Homo sapiens: one gene and its partner. The protein of the gene in region 1 interacts with the protein of each later gene in a pairwise test. Each region holds a gene or a part of one and is shown on either strand. Other genes may lie near its edges. The genes, in order: PROSER3 and ZNF396.

Evidence for each region.
Region 2: the proteins of PROSER3 (region 1) and ZNF396 interact in binary tests that used the Homo sapiens proteins (3 or more experiments, as listed by UniProt).

What each region holds. Positions count from the first base shown.
Region 1 is NC_000019.10:35,757,630-35,768,175, reverse strand, and holds the start of PROSER3 (proline and serine-rich protein 3), read right to left. Parts: upstream 10,001-10,546; 5' UTR 9,961-10,000; coding exon 9,950-9,960; intron 8,851-9,949; exon of another isoform or gene 8,803-8,850; coding exon 8,706-8,802; intron 8,388-8,705; coding exon 8,185-8,387; intron 6,158-8,184; coding exon 6,030-6,157; intron 5,924-6,029; coding exon 5,820-5,923; intron 3,323-5,819; coding exon 3,240-3,322; intron 3,143-3,239; coding exon 3,000-3,142; coding exon of another isoform or gene 2,989-2,999; exon of another isoform or gene 1,913-2,988; intron 1,409-1,912; coding exon 1,221-1,408; coding exon of another isoform or gene 1,167-1,220; intron 1,126-1,166; coding exon of another isoform or gene 1,105-1,125; coding exon 111-1,104; intron 22-110; coding exon 1-21.
Region 2 is NC_000018.10:35,365,848-35,376,393, reverse strand, and holds the end of ZNF396 (zinc finger protein 396), read left to right. Parts: exon of another isoform or gene 1-267; intron 268-2,029; 5' UTR 2,030-2,101; coding exon 2,102-2,518; intron 2,519-2,793; coding exon 2,794-2,938; coding exon of another isoform or gene 2,939-3,009; exon of another isoform or gene 3,010-3,100; intron 3,101-6,733; coding exon 6,734-7,179; 3' UTR 7,180-7,948; coding exon of another isoform or gene 7,949-8,043; 3' UTR 8,044-9,700; downstream 9,701-10,546. UniProt on the Homo sapiens protein: Isoform 1 and isoform 2 act as DNA-dependent transcriptional repressors.

The DNA of each region.
Region 1 (10,546 bases):
GGAACTCGCTGCCGTCGGAGTCTGGGCCGGGGAGAAAAGAATGAGCTCCAAGGGGCCGGCCTCTTAGGGGGCTGGCCTGCCTCCAACATCCAGGAGGGCGCGGGCATCACCTTCTGCAGCCTGCAGCAGCAGGGCGGCCTGGGCAAGCAGGGCCTCCGAGGGGGCGTGGTCAGCAGCGGGCGGGGGCGGGGCCAGGGCCTCCGGAGACCCCACCTGGAAGGCTGGCGGCGAGGCCTTGACTGTGGTTGCCTGCTCAGCTGGAGAGAGTGGGACCTCGGGCTGCAGGCAGGCTCCAGGGGAAGGAGTGGCTTCGCTCTTCCGTATCACTGACCCCGCTGCGGGCGGCAAGGCCTTGGCTTTCAGAGACTCGGCCTTGGCCCGACACTGGGATTCAGATGGAGGGGGAGTGACCTTGGTTTGGGGTTGTGTGGCCTGGACTTTCGGAGATCCAGCCTTGGGTGGAGGGGGGCCCTCGAAGTGAGGAGGCGTGTCCTCCAGGCTGTCAGGGAACAGCCGAGCTGCCACTACCTGGCCCAGGACACCCCTGAGCTGAGGGCCAGGTCCCTGGCCAGCTGCAGGGACTTGCTCGGCAGCCTCTGGGCGAGGGGCTCTGCTCCTCCGAGACTTGGGCCCCAGGCTCTTAGGCTGGGCACAGCTGCTTGGGTCAGGGATGGGCAGGCCCTGGGGGACAGCTGGGGATGCGAGGGTGGAGGCTGGAGGTGCAGGGGTACAGGCCAGGGGAGCCGGGGTGGAGGCTGGGGGTGCAAGGGTGGAGGCCAGGGGAGCTGGGGTGGAGGCCGGGGGTTCGAGGGTGGAGGCCAGGGAAGCCGGGGGCGCGAGGGTAGAGCCCAGATGTGCTAGGGTGGAGGCCTGCTGCGTGGGAGGAACAGCCCCAAGGGATACCCAAGGCCCAGACTGTGGGGCCCAGAAGAACCCGTGGGAGCTGGGGGCCCAAAAGATGTGTGGAGAGGACACTGAGGGAAAAGGAGGCCTCTCCACATAGAAGGCCTCTGGTGGACCAGGCTGGGCCACACTGCTCCACAGTGGGACATGGTTAGGCTGGGTCCCCAGAGAACTGAGGGTCTCCACTGGAGCAGGAGAGGTCTGTAGACAGATAAGAGAGATCTGAGACAGAGAGAGAGAGGGTGGAGGGTCCTCAGTCCCCCTCAGACCCAGCCCCTCCTCCAGCTCCCCCCAGGCTCCTCCCTCCCTCGGCTCACCAACGTGCGGAGGGCAGGGGTCAGAGGCGGCACCCAAGCTCTGTCACCCTTGCTTCCCTGAGCCTGTTCAAGCTTCCGCCGCTGCCGCCACTGGTACAGAATGTCATCCTCTGGCCGAAGGGGTGCTTGGGAGGAGGCTGGGGCTGGAGCAGGGGTGGGGGTCTGGGCCTGGGCTGGTGCCGGGGATGCTGTAGGGGGAGGTAGAGAGGAGAGGGTGAGGCAGGGGCCAGGGAGATCAGCAACCCCAGGACAGCCTGCACACACGCCCTCCAACTGTGCAGGGGGTTACTCAGACAGGCTCTCCAGATACTGTCCCAGCTCCTCTCTGGGGTGGGAAGAGGGGAAGGGGTCAAAGTCAGGGGAGCGAGCACTCCTGGTCTTCTCCATCTGTCATCATTCAAGTCTTTGTTCATTATATATATATAGTCTTGTTCTGTCACCCAGGCTGGAGGGCAGTGGTGCGATCACTGCAGTCTCGACCTCCTGGGCTCAGGCGATCCTCCTGCCTTAACCTCCTGAGTAGCTGGGACAAAAGGCGTGTGCCACCACACGGGGGTAATTTTTATTTTTTTGTAGAGACAGGGTCTTGCTTTGTTGCCCAAGCTGGTCTCAAACTCCTGGGCTCAAGCCATCATCATCCCACCTGGGCCTCCCAAAGTGCTGGGATTATAGGCGTGAGTCACAGTGCCTGGTTTCATTCAACAAATATTTATTGAGCCGTTCTGGACACTGGAGTTACAGCAGTGACCAGAAGACATATTCCCCAGAATCTACCCACTCCCCCACCCGCTACAGCCCTCACCCTGCTCCAGCCCCACTCACCCAACCTGGACTCTTAAATAGCCTCCCTGGTCTCTCTACTCTCCTCCAAATCTGTTCCCTACTCTCAGCCAGAGGGAGCCTGTGAATACCTGAGTCAGACCAGGCCTCTCGTACTTAAGAACCCTCCCTTGGCTGCACCTCTCTCCCGGTAAAAGGCGAAGGCTTTGCCTTTTACACCTGTCGTTCCCTCTGCCTGGAATGCTCTTCCTTCATGTATCGCACGGTGCATTCTCTCACATCCATCAGATCTTGGTCACCTTCCCTGGCTTCCCTATTCAAAACTGCAACAACCAGCTGGGCATAACGAATGGCCCATTCTTATAACCCTAGTGCTTTGGGAAGCGAAGGCGGTGGGGGGATCGCTTGAGCCCAGGAGTTTGAGATCAGCCTGAGCAACATAGTGAGACCCTCATCTCAACAAATAAAAAAATAAAAACAATTAGCTGGGCATAGTGGTGCATGCCTGTAGTCCCAGCTACTCAGGAGGCTGAGGTTATAGGATTGCTTGAGCCCAGCAATTGGACTATGATGGCACCATTTATTTATTTATTTTTGAGATGGAGTCTCTCTCTGTCGCCCAAGCTGGAGTGCAATGGCGCAATCTCGGCTCACTGCAACCTCCGCCTCCCAGGTTCAAGTGATTCTCCTGCCTCAGCCTACTGAGTAGCTAAGACTACAGGCATGCACCACTATGCACCATTATGTACCACGCGTGGCTAATTTTTGTATTTTTAGTAGATACCGGGTTTCGCCACATTGGCCAGGCTGGTCTCAAACTCCTGAGCTCAGGCAATCTGCCCGCCTCGGCCTCCATGCCTGACCCACCTCATCTGGCCTTATCCCTGTTTTACAGCTGGAGAAACAAGGCCCAGAGAGGCCCAAAGTCCCATAGCTGGTCAGTGGCAGAGTTGGGATTTGCACCCAGGCTGCCCTCAGTCTTTGCCTCTCAGCCCTTACCGGGTGCCCTGGGGCCAAGGCCCTTGCTGGAGTCAGGGATGAAGGTCTCCGAGAAGGGAGAGAGGCCATCAGAGCTGGTGGGGAATGAGGAAGTGCTGGCATCGCTGGGGCTGAGGGAGGAGGAGGAGGAGATGGAGGCTTTGCTGCAGGGAGAAGGCAGGAGTGAGGCAATGGAGGTCTCGAGACCTGGGCCACGTGGAGCCGCAGTAGGAAGGGTGATGGGGGCAGGGGTGCGGGCACCTGCGTTTGAGCAGCCTGGCAGCTCTGCTCTGTAGGCTCAGCGTCTCCAGGTCCAGCAGGGATGAGTTCCATGTGTGGAGGTTCTGCAGGGTGACAGGGTCAGACGCCAGCCCCAACCCAAAGGCTGCTGGGAAGGGGGTTCTAAACAGAGGGCCTGGAATGCAGGTTGTACTGCCCTTGGTAACCTCACATGCCAGCTTAGGATCTGCTCCTCCTCCTCAGGGAGGAGAGACCCAGTTTTCCCCTTTGGATTAGCACCTTTTTTTTTTTCTTTTTTTTTTTGAGATTGAATTTCACTTGTTGCCCAGGCTGGAGTGCAATGGCACGATCTCGGCTCACAGCAACCTCCATCTCCTGGGTTCAAGCAATTCTCCTGCCTCAGCCTCCCAAGTACCTGGGATTACAGGCATGCGCCACCACGCTCGGCTAATTTTGTATTTTTAGTAGAGACAGGGCTTCTCCATGTTGGTCAGGCTGGTCTCAAACTCGCGACCTCAGGTGATCCGCCCACCTCAGTCTCCTAAAGTGCTGGGATTACAGGCGTGAGCCACCGCGCCCGGTGGATTAGCACCTTTCATGGACAAATCATGGTTGGAGGAGGATGGATCCCACCTCCCAGATCAGAGCTGCTTCATCAGAGCATTCTATCCTCTGGTTCACAGTGGTTGGCTCAAGGATGAGTGAATCACAGTGAGCCCTGGGGCTTCTGATGGAGCAATTCGAAAAGCCCCCACTTCCCACTGGAGTCACTGAGCCAGGACCATGGGAGCCTAGAGACCCCAAGGACCATCCTGGCTATTGTGAGGGGAAAGCCCGCCTGGGACTGAGCCCAAAAAAAGAGAAGCACAGAGGCGGGCGTGGTGGCTCACGCCTGCAATCCCAGCACTTTAGGAGGCCGAGGCAGGAAGATTGCTTGAGCCCAGGACTTCGAGACCAGCCTCGACAACAAAGTAAGATCCCATCTCTACAAAAAAACCAAAAAATTAGCTGGGCATGGTGGCGCATGCTGTAGTCCCAGGTACTCAGGAGGCGAAGGTTGCAAAGAGTTCAAGGCTGCAGTGAGCCATGATTGTGCCACTGCACTCCAGCCTAAGAGTAAGACCCTATCTAATTAAAAAAAAAAAAAAAGAAGGCCGGGCGCGGTGGCTCATGCCTGTAATCCTAGCACTTTGGGAGGCCGAGGTGGGTGGATCACAAGGTCAGGAGATGGAGACCATCCTGGCTAACATGGTGAAACCCCATCTCTACTAAAAATACAAAAAAAAATTAGCCGGGCGTGGTGGCAGGCACCTGTAGTCCCAGCTACTCGGGAGGCTGAGGCAGGAGAATGGCGTGAACCTGGGAGGCGGGGTTTGCAGTGAGCCGAGATCGCGCCACTGCACTCCAGCCTGGATGACAGCACAAGACTCCGTCTCAAAAAAAAAAAAAAAAGGCCGGGCTTGGTGGTTCACGCCTATAATCCTAGCACTTTGGGAGGCTGAGGTGGGCGGATTGCCGGAGGTCAGGAGTTCGAGACAAGCCTGGGCAACACGGTGAAATCCCATCTCTACTAAAAAAATACAAAAAAATTAGCTGGGTGTGGTGGCATGCACCTGTAGTCCCAGCTACTCAGGAGGCTGAGGCAGAAGAATTGCTTGACCCCGAGAGGCGGAGGTTGCAGTGAGCTGAGATGGCGCCACTGTACCCCAGCCTGGGTGACAGAGCAAGACTCTGTATCAAAAAAAAAAGGGGGGGCATGGAGCCCAGAGAGAGTTGGGTCTCTCCCAACATTATTCAAACACCTGGATCCAGGCATATCTGGAAACATCTACTTTTGGATTTCTCAATTACATTAGCCAGCAAATCCTCCTTTTCTGTTTTAGCTTCCTTGAAATGGGGATCAGCTCTAATTCTTTTTTTTTTTTTTTTGAGATGGAGTCTTGCTGTCGCCAGGCTGGAGTGCGCTGGCGCTATCTTGGCTCACTGCAACCTCCGTCTCCCGGGTTCAAGCAATTCTCCTGCCTCAGGCTCCTGAGTAGCTGGGATTACAGGTGTGTACCACCACGCCCGGCTAATTTTTGTATTTTTAGTAGAGACGGGGTTTCACCATGTTGGTCAGGCTGGTCCTGAACTCCTGACCTCGTGATCTGCCTGCCTCAGCCTACCAAAGTGCTGGGATTATAGGCATGAGCCACGGTGCCCAGGCTTTTTTTTTTTTTTTTTTTTTAAATAGAGACAGGGTCTTGCTCTACTGCCCAGGCTGGAGTGCAGTGGCATGATCATAGCTCACAGCAGCCTTGAACTCCTAGGCTCAAGCCATCCTCCAGCCTCAGGCTCTCAAGTAGCTGGGATTACAGGTACATACCACCACACCTGGTTCTCTCTCTCTCTCTCTTTTTTTTTTTTTTTTTAGTAGAGGCAGAATCTCACCATGTCACCCAAGCTGGTCTTGAACTCCTGGCCTCAAGCAGTCCTCTCACCTTGGCCTCCCAAAGTGCTGGGATTACAGGTGTGAGCCACTGCTCCTGATCTTCTAATTCTGTCCTAGGGCTGGTGTTGTCAGTTCAGGCACCCAAGGGAGGGAGTGAATGGGGATGTCACCTGCTTTATTTCCTGAAGGGGAGCCACAGCATGGGATGCACTGGTCACGTTGACCGCAGTAGGGACAGCTGTATGGGGTCTTCCTTCTGGTTTGTTGGCTCCTGCTGAGAAGCCCCAGTTGAGGTATGAGGGCCAGGAGGAGTGGCTGCTGGGGGCATTGATCAGCAAAGGTTTAGGGGTGGGAGTAGTGGATGGCACTGAAAGAGGTACCTGCTGCACTTTGACTGCTGGGGTCTGGAGAGTCAGACTGCAGCCACCAAAAGTCAGCTGGGGTTGGGCCTGCAGGCTGGCGCTCCTCTCGACTGGTGGGCTGAGCCTGGCGGAACCTGTTTATATACCTGTGAACATCAGGGGATAGGAGGTGAGTGGAGTGAGGAGAGCCAAATAATAATAAGAATAATTATAGCAGCCAACGTTTACCAAGCACCATGGCAGAGCCTGGTAGCTATCCCTCAATATCTGCTTTTCTTTCTTATATAGTCACATAACTGTTTTTGAGACAGGGTCTCGCTCTGTCACCCAGGCTGGAGGGCAGTGGTGCAATCATAGCTCACTGCAGCCCCCAACTCCTGGGCTCAAGAAATCCTCTCTCCTCAGCCTCCTGGGTAGCTGGGACACAGGTGCATGCCACCACACTCGGCTACTTTTTGTATTTTTATTTATTTATTTATTTGTAATTAATTAGTTTATTTTTTGAGACGGAGTTTTGCTCTTGTTGCCCAGGTTAGAGTGCAATGGCGTGATCTTGGCTCACTGCAACCTCTGCCTCCTGGTTCAAGTGATTCTTCTGCCTCAGCCTCCCAAGTCACTGGGATTACAGGCATGCACCACCACGCCCGGCTAATTTGGTAGAGACGGAGTTTCACCATGTTGGTCAGGCTGGTCTCAAACTCCTGATCTCAGGTGATCCACCCACTTTGGCCTCCCAAAGTGCTGGAATTACAGGCGTGAGCCACTGCAGCCCTGCCAATTTTTGTATTTTTAGTAGAAACGGGGTCTTGCCATGTTGCCCAGGCTGGTCAGGAACTCCTGGGCTTAAGGGATCCTGCCACTTTGGCTTCCCAAAGTGCTGGGATTACAGGAATGAGTCACTGTGCCCAGCCAGGAATGTAACTTTTAGCTGGGCACACAGCCAGTCTCCTATGGACTATATTTACCAGGTACCCTTGTAGCCTTGTGACCACGTGACTAAGTTCTTGACAAACAGGGTATGAAATGTGATTTTGGAAAGCTGATGTGGTTGAAAGCCATTTTGCACCATGAAGGAAAGGGCAACGGCCTAGAGTTCGGACAGCAACAAGACAGAAGTAACCTGTGTCCCTGACACCTCAACTACGGGTTGCCACATCATCCCTGGTGGCTTCTGCCTGGACTGCAGGTGAGGGAGGAATAAATTCTATCTTGTTTCAGCCATAATTAATTTGGGACTCTTTGTTACAGCAGCTGAACCTGTATTCTACAAATCTAAGTGGTGACTATGTGAGAAGCACTGCTAGAGATCATTATATATAGTAACTCACTGAAAGCTCAAAACAGCCCTAGGGGATGTGTACTATTAATATGCCCAATTTAGGCCTGGCAGTGGCTCACACCTGTAATCCCAGAACTTTGGGAGGCTGAGGCAGGTGGATCACCTGAGGTCAGGAGTTTGAGACCAGCCTGGCCAACATGGTGAAACCCCATCTCTACTAAAAATACACAAAATTAACCAGGTGTGGTGGTGGGCACCTGTAATCCCAGCTACTTGGGAGGCTGAGGCAGGAGAATCACTTGAACCCAGAAGGGAGAGGTTGCAGTAAGCCGAGATCATGCCACTGCATTCCAACTTGGGCAACAAGAGTGAAACTCCATCAAAAAAACAAAAACAAAAACAAAACAAAACAAAACACCCAATTTAGAGATAAATAAACTGAGGCTGGGCATGGTACGTCTGGCCTGTAATCACAGCACTTTTTGGAGGCCAAGGTGGGAGGTTTGCTGGGTGTGGTGGCATGCATCGTAATCCCAGCAACTCAGGAGGCTGAGGTGGGAGGACGGCTTGAGCCCAGGAGTTTGAGGTTATAGTGAGCTGTGATTGTACCACTGACCTCCAGCCTGAGTAACAGAGCGAGACCCTGTCTCTAAACAAATAAATAAATAAATAAAAAGAGATAAAGAAACTGAGGCCAAGATCATACAGAGAGTTAAATGACAGAGCTGGGATTTGAACTCAGGCAGTCTAGCACCAGAGTTCTTAACACACATAAACTGCCTGGTCCTAAAAGAGTGCTGCAGAAACAGCTCTGGCCATGATGATTATTACTGCATGCCTTCTCCCTCCCTCTAACCCAAAGCCTCTTTTTCCCCCAGGGCTGCTGGTACTTACTTGGCCACCACGGAGTCCCCGCTGTCAATCAGGGTGGGTGCTGGGGAGGCCCACATCTGTCCCTCAGTGGTGCTGGGCAGGGAGGGGGTCCCTGAACTGGATGGCCAGGACTCCTCAAACAGCTCAGGGGAGTTGGGACCTGTGGCTAGAGCCTTGGGAGCTTGTGGGAGCCTGGATCTCTGAGACCTGGATGGGCTCAGGGTCTAAGATCAGGGAAGAGCACAAGAAGAAAAAGTGTGAGGTCTCATGGGTCATCCCTGCAGGGGAACCAGGACACACACAAAGTCTCAGTCCAGAGGGGAGGAAACACATCCTGTAATGATAACAACCTAGTGTGATGGGGGCTCAGATGGGGAATCCAGGTGGTAGAGAGGGGGACAAGGGCAGGGCCGTGGGGAGGGGACAAGGGGCTGTCTCTTAAATCTCTCATCCCTATCTCTCATCACATGTCTTCCTACCCTCTAAAGGTCATTCTCTTGCTACTGGGCTGGCACTCAGCACTCTTTGAGGGGTGTCCTCACCTTGGGACACCAGGTCTGGCTCTGGGATGGCCAGTAGTGGCTTCGACCCAGGGGCGCATCTCCAAAGGGACTATCTTGAATGGAGAAAACTGGCAGGCTGCAAGAGGAAAGTGGGGTTCAGGCAGCACGTGGTTTCGCCGCAGCCCTGGGGAGGGGGACATTAGAGGAGGGCAGAACCAGACAATTCCCATAGATTCCTGGAGGAGACGGACTGTCATTTCCATGAAGCACCGTTGCACATTCAGGATATCGACAGTGGAAGGGTGAGTCCTGGGAGCCCGCCCCTGGAGCAGTCTTAACAGGGAGCAACTCAGGAACTGACAGCCGGTGGTTCTCAACCCTGGATCCAGTCTAGGAGGGGCTTTTCAACGTTACAGGCGCGCGGTTCCCATTCCAGACCAACAGAATCAGAATATCTATTAGTGGGGCTGGGCCTCCGTGTCTTTTCCGCAGCGTCCCAGGTGATTGCGAAGTGGAGTTCAGGTTAAGAATCGCGGCTCGCCGGGCGTGGTGGCTCACGCCTGTAATCCCAGCACTTTGGGATTACACCGAGGCGGGTGGATCACTTGAGGTCAGGTGTTCGAGACCAGCCTTACTAACATGGCGAAACCCCGTCTCTACTAAAAATATAAAAAATTAGCCAGGCGCGGTGGCAGGTGCCTGTAGTCCCAGCTACCTGGGAGGCTGAGGCATGAGAATTGCTTTAACCCGGGGGCAGAGGTTGCAGTAGCCAAGATTGTGCCACTGCACTCCAGTCTGGGCCAACAGAGCGAGAGACTCTGTCTTAAAAAAAAAGAAAGAAAGAAAGAACCGCGGCTGGATTATATCACCGAGCATTTCCCATACATTCCTGGGGGACACGAAGGCAAAGGGTAGATGGACTACAAGCCCCAGGATCCACTGGGCTCCGCCTCCGCGAGAAAGTTCAAAGACAACGCCCAGGCGTGTCTGGGGGCCATTTCAAAATGAAGAAATTCAGATCTCAAGCCTTTCTTGGACACCTTTAGAGGCAATAATTCCTTGGGGCCCACTCAGAGAGGAACATAAGACTCTTAGGGGACCCCCGGGATGCTAACGGCTACGGCTGGAGAGGCCAACGGCTGTGGAGCATGTTGGGAATTGTAGTTCCAGTGCGGTGGAGCCCTAGCGACTCCAGACCGTATCCAGCCCGTCCTAGGCTGTGCTGCTCTCGCCGTTGGTCCTCCCCAGCCTCCTGTAGTCCCTGGAAGAGCGATCGGCCTCACCTGCGGTCCATCCCGCGGCTCCCTCCGCGCTTCCGGCCGCTCTGCTCCTTCACCCAACAGGCCCCGCGCGCATCTCCGTCGCTTAGCAACGCCCTATCAGCCCCGCCCCTCTCTGTGCCCGCGCCGGAGGCGAGCGGCCTCCAAGGCGACCAATGAAAGAGAGGAAACAGAAGTACCCGGAGGGAGGTGTTTCAGGATTGGCTGGGACGACTGCCTGCCCGACAGGGCGTGTTTGATTGGAGAACCTGCCGAGTGTAGCAGTAATTGGCAAGACCGTGCACCAATGGGAAGGATCTGAGGCTGGGCTTGCGGTTAGGAGGTGATCTAAAGTACCCTCGCTTAAAAGTCCCGCTTTTTAAGCGCCTTCTTGCTGCAGAAGTCCTGTCCCGACCCCGGTCTAACTACCATTCTTTCTGTTGCAGGGGCAGTGGGGCGGGTTGGGGGGGGGGCGCGCTCTGCCCTCTCTCTAACCGCTATTCCTCCATCAGTTGGGCCAATCAGTCCGTCCCAACGGTCATCTAACTTCTTTCTTGCTGCAGGAGCAGCTGGTTGCATCAGTTGCCAGGTCTGGGCTCCTGGCCGAGGTAGCGGGATCAA
Region 2 (10,546 bases), on another chromosome or scaffold:
AAAAATAATCTAGGGCTTTTATGAGGATTTAACCTTTGTTTATTTTTACTAAGGTGTTCAAAACAGTGCTTGGCACATAGTAAATTCTGTTAATATGTGTGTCTGCTATTGTTTGTTTCATAGCACATCATTGTGTAAAGTTGTATCATTTATTTGGTAACAACTTTATGAACTCACAGGCTTTATACAGGGCCTAGAACAATACTTGGTGAAGTGAGAAAATAAGTCAAATGGCAGGATACATAACGATGGAAGACGGAGGCGCACGTAAGATTTTTAAAGTAGTCATCATTTGCTGAAGTTGTACAAACACTATCATATACCTCCTGCCCAATTTAAAAAATATGATTAGACCGGGTGCAGAGCCTCACGCCTGTACTCCCAGCATTTTGGGAGGCCGAGGCAGAGGGATCACCTGAGGTCAGGAGTTCGAGACCAGCCTGGCCAACATGGTGAAACCCCGTCTCTACTAAAATTATAAAAATTAGCCGGGCGTGGTGGTACACGTCTGCAATCCCAGCTACTTGGGAGGCTGAGGCAGGAGAATCGCTTGAACCCAGAAGGCAGAGGTTGCAGTGAGCCAAGATCCCGCCATTGTACTCCAGCCTGGGCAACAGGGCCAGACTCTGTCTCAAACAAAACAAAACAACAACAACAACAAAATGAGATTAGTTACTGGTGATACTTAACAGTAAAATGATACAAAGGAAAGTGCCGTCCCCCCCCAACTTTGTTGCTAACGAGCTAATAATACTTGAAGAAATCGTTGCCCTCACAAGTCACTATGATTGTGATGGTATTGTGAATTGATACAGTCTTTGTGCAATATTTTGATAATACATAGCAAGACAGAATTTGCTCTTCTCCTTTGATCCTCAACAAGCAGAGGCCTTGGGACATGCTTGAAAGAAATACTTTGAAAGGAGAAAAACAGTATATTCATAAAGATGTGCCTCCCAGCATTAATTATAATAGTGAAATTAGAAACAACCTAAGTATTTTAAAATAGTTAAGTAAGTAATATGGATATGGAAAAAAATAGAAATACATTCAGATGAAGGAACGTGATTGCCTTTTTTGTTGTTTTTTCTTTTTTTTTTTTTTTTGGTGGGGTAGAGATGGGGTCCCATTATGTTGCACAGGCTGGTCCCAAACTCCTGGGCTCAGGTGATCCTCCCATCTCCCACCTCGGCTTCCCAAAGTGCTGGGATTTCAGGCATAAGCACAGTGCCCAGCTGATTGGTTTATTTTTTTTTTAATGGTTCCTTTAATGTCGAAGTAATGTTTTAACAGTAAAAGCTGAAAAAAGTCACACAAAAGTGCTTCCCTCATGAGACTATTTCTTTGAGCTCTTTGCAGCACACTAAATACCGATTGGCTCTTTGAACTGGCTCCAGAGTTAGAGCATTTCTCAGGCTTCCCTTATTTCCATTATCTGGGAGCTTCTATGCAATCCTGGCTGATCTCTTATTGTAATATTCAGTAGCCTTGTGGGCATGGTTTTCAGAATGAATTGTGAATCACTTATGCATATGAATTAATGAGTCTTAGCTGTTTGGTTCTCTTAAAGAAGTATTCTTCAAAAGCATGGTTTCTGGGCCTGGCGTGGTGGCTCAAGCCTGTAATCCCAGCACCTCAGGAGGCCAAGGCGGGTGGATCACCTGAGGTCAGGAGTTCGAGACTAGCCTGGCCAACGTGGTGAAACCCTGTCTCTACTGAAAATACAAAAATTAGCCAGGCGTGGTGGCGGGTACCTGTAGTCCCAGCTACTTAGGACGCTGAAGCATGAGAATCACTTGAACCCAGGAGGCAGAGGTTGCAGTGAGCCGAGATCACACCATTGCACTCCAGCCTGGGCAACAGAGCAAGACTCCATCTCAAAAATAAATAAATAAATAAAAGCATGGTTTCTGTTAAGACTAAGGTCAGTAGTTCCTATACAGTCTTATGTTTCTAATCTTAGTTGTTTTGTTCTAAGAAGCATTTGTCTTTTGTCTTCTTTCCACTTGTTTCTTTAATCATATTTAAGGAGTGTCCATCAGGACAGCTTCACCTCCTTGAGGATTAAAGCCTAACAGTACTGAGCTATTTGTCTGTCAAAATGTCTGCAAAATTGGGAAAGTCATCATCACTCCTAACACAAACTTCAGAGGAGTGTAATGGGATTCTGACAGAGAAGATGGAAGAGGAAGAGCAGACCTGTGATCCAGACTCTAGCCTCCACTGGAGCAGCAGCTACAGCCCAGAGACCTTCCGCCAGCAATTCAGGCAGTTTGGCTACCAGGATTCACCTGGGCCCCATGAGGCTCTGAGCCGGCTCTGGGAACTTTGTCATCTCTGGCTGAGGCCGGAAGTGCACACCAAGGAGCAGATCCTGGAGCTGCTGGTGCTGGAGCAGTTCCTGGCCATCCTCCCAAAAGAGCTTCAGGCCTGGGTGCAGAAGCATCATCCAGAGAATGGAGAGGAAACTGTGACTATGCTGGAGGATGTGGAGAGAGAGCTTGATGGACCAAAGCAGGTAAGAAGGATGCCTGTGGAGATGAACCCCCAGGCTGAGTCAAGAGCACTGGCACATCATTGGGAGTAGAGCTCTCAAACTGTATTCCCACTCAGCACAACTGGATGTATAGGGGTGAAAGTACTAATGGGTGTCCCAGCAAATAGAAGGTGGCTCTACTTTTTCCCTCCCTTTTCCTGTGTCCATGATACTTTTTGCATAGTTTCTTCTCTGTTATTTTATCCTCAAGTCCCAACCTGATGGTGTTCTTCAGCCTCAATTATTCCTGTTTTTAGATCTTTTTTGGACGAAGGAAGGACATGATTGCAGAGAAGCTAGCACCTTCAGAAATCACTGAGGAATTGCCAAGTAGCCAGCTCATGCCCGTGAAGAAGCAGCTCCAGGGAGCATCATGGGAGCTTCAGTCCTTAAGACCACATGGTGAGGGGGCAGGATTCAGTTCATGTTGGAAGGTGTGGGGGCCCTCTGCTCACCACACACATCTCAGCTGATTTATGCAAGAGGCCTCAAATCTCCCCCTCTCATCTCCTCCTTACTGTGGGAACTTCTGTTATTTGTCCTACTAAATGAAGATCTTCAGTATTTTGTTCTTGCTTCTTTTTCAGAGATTCTTATAAAATCTTCAGACTTTAAATCCCTGACATCTGCATCAGGGTTTTCATGCCTTTTTAAAGTAGCCCTTTTATCTTCAGGCAGCCCTTGAGGCCTTTCTGTGGGACCCCAAGGTACACAGCCCAGAGACCACTGATCCTCATCATCATTTCCTATATAACTGCTCAGTTACTGGTGGGATCTCGTAGCAGAATCGCCTATATTGCTGCTAAGGTGACTTTGCTCTCATACGTGCTTTGAATACACTTCTCTACTCCCTCACATCTTCAACTGGCCTCAACTGCTCTTTGCATTGCTTTCTATAAGTGCTCCAGAATAGCTGTGTAGCAATCTATTCTTCCATTGCAGATACTAAACAAATAAGTGCTATGGGGAAAAAATAAAAACAAAACAGAATAAGGGGGCTAGAGGGAAGGTGAGAAGTAGAAATAAGGCTGAGTTAGAGGCCTTGTAGGCTGTGACTGCTCCTGCTTCAGACAGAGTAGCTGTGTTTTCGTCTGTTTTATATATTGGAACTCAATGTAAAATTTCATTTGATAAAAGGGCCATGCTACTTTAAACAGAATGGTGGGGATAGGATCTTATTATATAGAGTGGTAGAAAGGCCTCTCTGATGAAGCGACATTTGAGCAGAGACCCTCCTTCTAGATGATCATCCTGGATAAAATAGGAGCCAGAGATTAAGAGGGAAATCCTACTTGGGAGCATCTCCTTCCTTCTCTCCAGCACTGCTTCCATAGTTCAGGAGTGGCTGATAGCTAAGCAAGGTTAGAGTTTTTCCAAGGGAATTTTTATAAGAAACTACACAAAGGAAATACAGTAATTTAGAAAGAGATTTAGAAAACATTGTTCACCCTAACTTGGCAAGTACTGGCTCTCTGAAGGCTTATACTGGGACACGTAATACCTCCAGTCTAGAAATTGTCTTGGTATACTTAGAAAAGTGAAAGTCTTTTCACGAAAAAGTATTTTCCGTCAGGAAAGGGAGGGAGACCATCCCAGCCTCAGCAGCTTGGTGTGGTGGTGACTACAGAAGTGATCAACCTCAAAGCCAGGTGTGGCAAGAACCACATCCTACCTGTGAATGTCCTCATGGAGGCCTTTCCTACATTTTTTTTTAAGATTCGTAGAAATTTGAAACAGAATGCAACAGGTCCAGGATCTTGCAGTACAAGGCAGAGAGAACCAGAATCACTTGATAGAATAATAGAACCATTTCTTAAGGCCACAACATGATTTCTGTGGTACTGAGTCATGTCTTATGAAAGCTTCTGGGAGATGATCTTGGTCTCAGTACTGTAAAGTACTAATTGATGCCAGGATTTTGATAGTAATGACTAATCATTGAGGTCACTTTGGAATATAAACTATCAAAAATGAATTTGAGACAGAATCCTTACCATTTATAAAATGATTTCCACTTAAACTAGTAATAATAAATGAGTATGCCATATGCTATGGTTTGAATATTTGTCTCCTCCAAAACTTGTGTTGAAACTTAATCCCAAGTGTGGCAGTATTGAGAAGTGAGGCCTTTGAGAGGTAATTGAATTATCACCCCTGCCCTCATAAATGGATTAACTCATTCATGGATTAATGGGTTAATTGGTGATCATAGGAGAACTGGTAACTTTATAAGAAGAGGAAGAAAGGGCTGAGTTAGCATATTAGCATGCTCAGCCCCCTCACCATGAAATGCCCTCCACTGCCTCAGGACTCTTCAGAGGGTCTCCACCAGCAAGAAGGCTCTCACCAGATGCACCCCTCCACCCTGGACTTCTCAACCTCCATAACTATAAGAAATAAATTCTTTTTATAAATAAATTACTCAAGTTCAGGTATTCTATTCTAAACAACAGAAAATGGACTGAGACACCATATTTGTGAATAAATACAATAAATAATTTTAAATTCCTTTTGTAATAACTATTTAGACCCATTTGATTTGATTTTTATATATTTTTTCAAGTTAGGTTTATTTAGTTTGCTGCAGCAAGAAAGAGAACACGGCACAGAAACTATGGGGTGTGTCATTAAGAAGGAATTGGGAAGGGCTTATGTTAAGATTTGAGCTTATGTTGGGTGATTCTAAGGAGATTGTAGAGACAGCAGGTAGATCCATTTTAAGTAAATTCTAAAGAGTAAAACAACAACTCAGTTTTCTTATTCAGTATCACATTGCATCACTAATTCTTCTCCCCAGACTACCTTTCTCACCCTAACCTTTTCATTAGGCCTTGAGAGGGCCCAGGGAATCACTTATCATCAGTACCTCTCTGGGTTGCTTTTAATCTTATTTATATAATTACTTCAGATAAAGGCACCCCCAGTAGTCACAGTCAGCCCCAGCCAAGTCATCTCCCCAGACATGTCCAAAACTGTTGTACTTTGCTTTTATAAACTCATTTTAAGCTCCTGTCTTTCAGCAGCTTCAGTTAAAATGCCACCATGGGCCGGGCGCGGTGGCTCACGCCTGTAATCCCAGCACTTTGGGAGGCCGAGGCGGGCGGATCACGAGGTCAGGAGATCGAGACCATCCCGGCTAAAACGGTGAAACCCCGTCTCTACTAAAAAATACAAAAAATTAGCCGGGCGTAGTGGCGGGCGCCTGTAGTCCCAGCTACTTGGGAGACTGAGGCAGGAGAATGGCGTGAACCCGGGAGGCGGAGCTTGCAGTGAGCCGAGATCCCGCCACTGCACTCCAGCCTGGGCGACAGAGCGAGACTCCGTCTCAAAAAAAAAAAAAAAAAAAAAAAAAATGCCACCATGAGGATAACTGAAGTGATTTCTTCAGGTAATGCAACCACATTACACTGGCATTTTCACATCTGAGTTAGCAGTTCTGCTGGAGCTTTAGGCACCCTGAGTCATAAGGCCCTCTGCATCAAGCCAGGTTTGTGTGCCGCCTGAGTGGCCGCAGCCCATAAGCAGCCATGTACGTTTTTCATGGATGTTAAATGTAATACAAAATAATACAACAAACAGCGATTCAACCAGTAATATAAAATCCATACAGGAGTAGAGGTTTTTCATCAGTGGGTACTCTGCTACCCTTGATCTTTTGAGGTACTAGTTATCCTAGTCTATAATCTTCCCTTTATTGGCCTAACTTATATTTTCTTACTTTATTTTCCACATTCCTTTTTGGCCCCTTGGCTTTCTTCAGCTCATTTCTTTGCATAGTTACTGATTCCTTTATGAATATTAAGCTTTATTTATTTATTGATACTCCAGTACTAAATCTTGTTTGTTACTCCCACTGGCACATTGGATTCCTCTCCTTCTAGCTCTCTGTGTCTCCAATCATTTCTTCTTTCTAAGCCCTTTCTTTCCTTCCAGACTTTCCTTAGTCTCTGACATATCTTTTTATCCTTATTCCCTATTCTGTCTTTTCCATAGAACTTTGCAACTTTACAGTTTAGTTGACTGCCTCCTCAGTATGTAAACCTTTCTCTATGTCTTATATAAACTTCTCAATATTTTGTCTTACACTCTCCGTCCTTCACATTGTGTGTTGTTTTATAAACATGCTAGCAATAATCATGTATATTTCATTTGGATCATCCTTTCTCTTTCCTGGTGACATTTGTTTTTCCATTTCAGATGAAGACATCAAAACTACAAATGTGAAATCTGCTTCAAGGCAAAAGACTTCTTTAGGCATAGAACTGCATTGCAATGTTTCCAATATCCTTCATATGAATGGCTCCCAGAGTTCCACATATAGAGGAACCTATGAACAAGATGGTAGGTTTGAAAAGAGACAAGGAAACCCTTCTTGGAAAAAACAACAGAAATGTGATGAATGTGGCAAAATCTTTAGTCAGAGCTCAGCCCTTATTTTACATCAGAGAATCCACAGTGGAAAGAAACCTTATGCATGTGACGAGTGTGCAAAGGCATTCAGCCGAAGCGCAATTCTGATTCAGCATCGACGAACCCATACTGGTGAGAAGCCCTACAAGTGTCATGACTGTGGCAAAGCCTTTAGTCAGAGCTCAAATCTTTTTAGACATAGGAAAAGACACATTAGAAAAAAAGTCCCATAAGTATCATGAGGGAATCAAAGCATTTACTCAGAGCTATTTCAGCACAAGGGAAGACACCAGATGCAAACGCTCCTTAGTACAAATCAGTGGTCTTAGTAAGCACCAGTCTCCTTTCAAGACTCATGAAAGCCACAGGAGAGAAGGTTGAAGATCTCAGGTCAGCATTATTTGCTTTTCTGCTTATCAATGCAGTCTCAATTCTGACGTTTGCAATTCCAAAGCTTAATTCAGATTTCCATCCCTATGCAGGCCTTGAAAAGGCATTCTCAGACATGTTCTACTATTTTCATTATTAACACATATAATGAATTAGTATATATCTTTTTAGACAAGTATGTTTTTTCCCTCATTGAGAAGGAATGTGTGAGTTACTCAGTGTAAAAATAGACATTCTCCTCCATTTCATAACTTGAGCACTAGAATTCTAAAGACCAAAAATTAAAGCACTCAAAAAGAATTCCTGGCTGGGTGCGGTTGGCTCATGCCTGTAATCCTAGCACTTTGGGAGGCCGAGGCAGGCAGATTGCCTGAACTCAGGAGTTCAAGACCAGCCTGGACAACACGGCGAAACCCCGTCTCTACTAAAATTCAAAAAATTAGCCAGGCATGGCAACGTGTACCTGTAATCCCAGCTACTAGGGAGGCTGAGGCAGGAAAATTGCTTGAACCGCTCAGACAGAGCAAGACTCCGTCTTTAAAATAAATAAATAAATAAATAAATAAATAAATAAAAATAAAAATAAATTCCTATTTTGTCTTCTGTTACTAGATTCAAAATATGAACATGCGATTGCAGAGGCCCAAAAGAATATGTACTTCAAGACTAGGCTGAAGTGCCCCAGGTCACTTTCAGGAGGCAGATAAATAAAGGCCTTATCTTATGAAAGCACACAAGAGCCTCCATACTATTAATATCAAGTTAATTTCCCGTGTTGGAAAAAAATAATCTCCTTTGCAATGTAATTTGGAAATAAGTCAATGGAAACATGAAAATGACTGCTTGTCTACAAGGAGTCAGCTAAACATAAGGAATGTTTTCATAACAATATTAATCTATGGGTGCTTCTGTAAGATGGATGATCATCTTAATATAAAGAAAAAAGGGAGATGAACAAAATTGTCAAACAAGACTGATGTACCACAAGTGTTGTCAAGTACAGTGTGTGTCGGAGAGATGTACCACAGCTTAACTGGAAGAGGAAGCCCGTAACTGCTGATGACAATACTTTCAGTGTCCCCTTTTCTGGCATAAATCAACTATGAATATGTTTCAAGCATCACAAGACAACCTTTTCAGAGTCTTCTGTATTCTTAGTAAGATGAGTTTCTAGACACGCTGTCATGAAATGAGACCCTGGATTTTGATGCTCTTGTACATATGGACAAATCACTGAAGTTCAATTTAAAGGGTCCACTGCAGTCCCTTATAAACAATTGTTGAACCTAACCATTATAGTTTATAAGTTTTAAGACATTTATGGGATATCTTATTTGGCTTATCTATGGGATATGAGTAACTATGTTTTACCTGCATTTAATTCAGCCAGATTCCCTGTTTAAAATTACTGAATCGTACATTATTAAAATTATTCTGACAGTATACAAACAACAAAATTATCTATTTTCCAGAGATTCTTGATAAAACTCTGTAATGTTACTACAATAATACATGTATTGTGTTTTCCATGGTGCTACAGTTACACAATATGGAGGCAAACATCAGAAATCAAAGTCCTTGGAATAAGGGAAGAGACTCATAGTAAACTTCTTTGTCTGGTTGGGTTCCTCATAAAGTATAAAACATTTCATTCTCAGAAAATCCAACCATATCTTAGAGTATCTCCAGAAACTGGCTTAGAGGAGCTCCAAATATGTGGAATTACCACACTCTGCTTAGTTAGTATGCTGATAAATGTAAGATTAGTAGGAGGAGAAGTGAATGTAAATTTTATTATAGAATTTTCTGATAGTGATTATGATTTGTAGCTCTAGTGAATATGAATTTTATATTGAGTTGTGTGTATCTTGAGTCACTAAAAATGTAGGATACTTTTTATTTGGGGCTCATTGTCTTTGTAATTACGGAGAGGAACAAACCATCTATTGAAACAACAAGTGCCTCAGAGATGTATATATTGTGAATTACTGCTTAATTACGGAAAGAGTTTCTTAGGTTCTATGTGAATAAGATGGCAGAATCTAAATCAAGTATTTTGAAGGAAGCACCCATCTTCACTTGGTGCTGCCATCAACTTTGTAAGATTGCATTCTATTTATTGTGAATAATTTGAGTGTTTCCACAGGAAAGTGGTATGAATCATATCGTCTAAGTATATGATGAATCTTTAAAGGGTGTCTCTGTGTACTTTGAATTATTTTGCAGTTATGTAGGTATCCTAATGAGTGAATGGTACTAGTTTATATAAAAGGAGAATTCATTGAGCTAACCTTGGTTTTAAAAATTAGCATTAGCACCCCCATTATATTAATTTTCAGGGATAGTAAATACTCCAAAATGAAATTGGTATTGTTTTCTGGCTTTCACTTCATCTGGGCCTTCAAGATTACCAATAATCCTATATGGTTTGTTTGTTTTTGTTTGTTTTTGTTTACCACTCCCATTCTCTTCAGAGACCAAGTCAAATGTTCATCACTGTCCTTACAACAGTGGCTTAAAACAGCAAGCCTTTGTGTTAGGAATGCTTCTGGATGCAAAATCCATCTTTGGTGGTTTAAACAAATAGGAATTTTCAACCTGAAATCTGGAAGGTGGGTTGCTGGCTCTCAATCTGCAGCTGGAATGACGACTGGTCTAACTTTACCTCATGCTATTTTGTCCGATTTTCGAGAGAGCTGTCACAGCTCTAGGAACTAGGATTAAGTCAGGAAGAAAGGAGAAAGACAGCCATGCTAAGCAAAAAGCTTTCCAAAAACCTTAGCAAAATCTGGCTTATGTTTCCCTGTTGCAACTGTGTCTGGTAGGGCAAGCGTTTTCAACCTCTAGAGGGAAAGCAGGCCAGATGGGGGTTGAGGACGACATTGGGTTAGCCAACCGTGTTTGCCATACTAATCCTTTGCCACCTTCCTCCTTACGGGCAGACAACTATCTTTTGCTTCCTGCATTAAAGGAAAAAAAGATAAGAACTCTTACAAGTTCCTATGACTAAATTTGCCAAATTATTTACACTTTACCCATCATTTCCTCTCCCTCTTCTGAGAATGAGAGAGGGGCCTCTCCCCCGTCTGAGAATGAGAGAGGGGTCTCTCCCCTCTGAGCCTCAGCATTCTCACCTCTGAAAGGCCTTGGCTGCCAGTCATTCTTCCTCTCTTCTATTTCTTCACTCTCTGCCTTCCTTCTGCATCCATC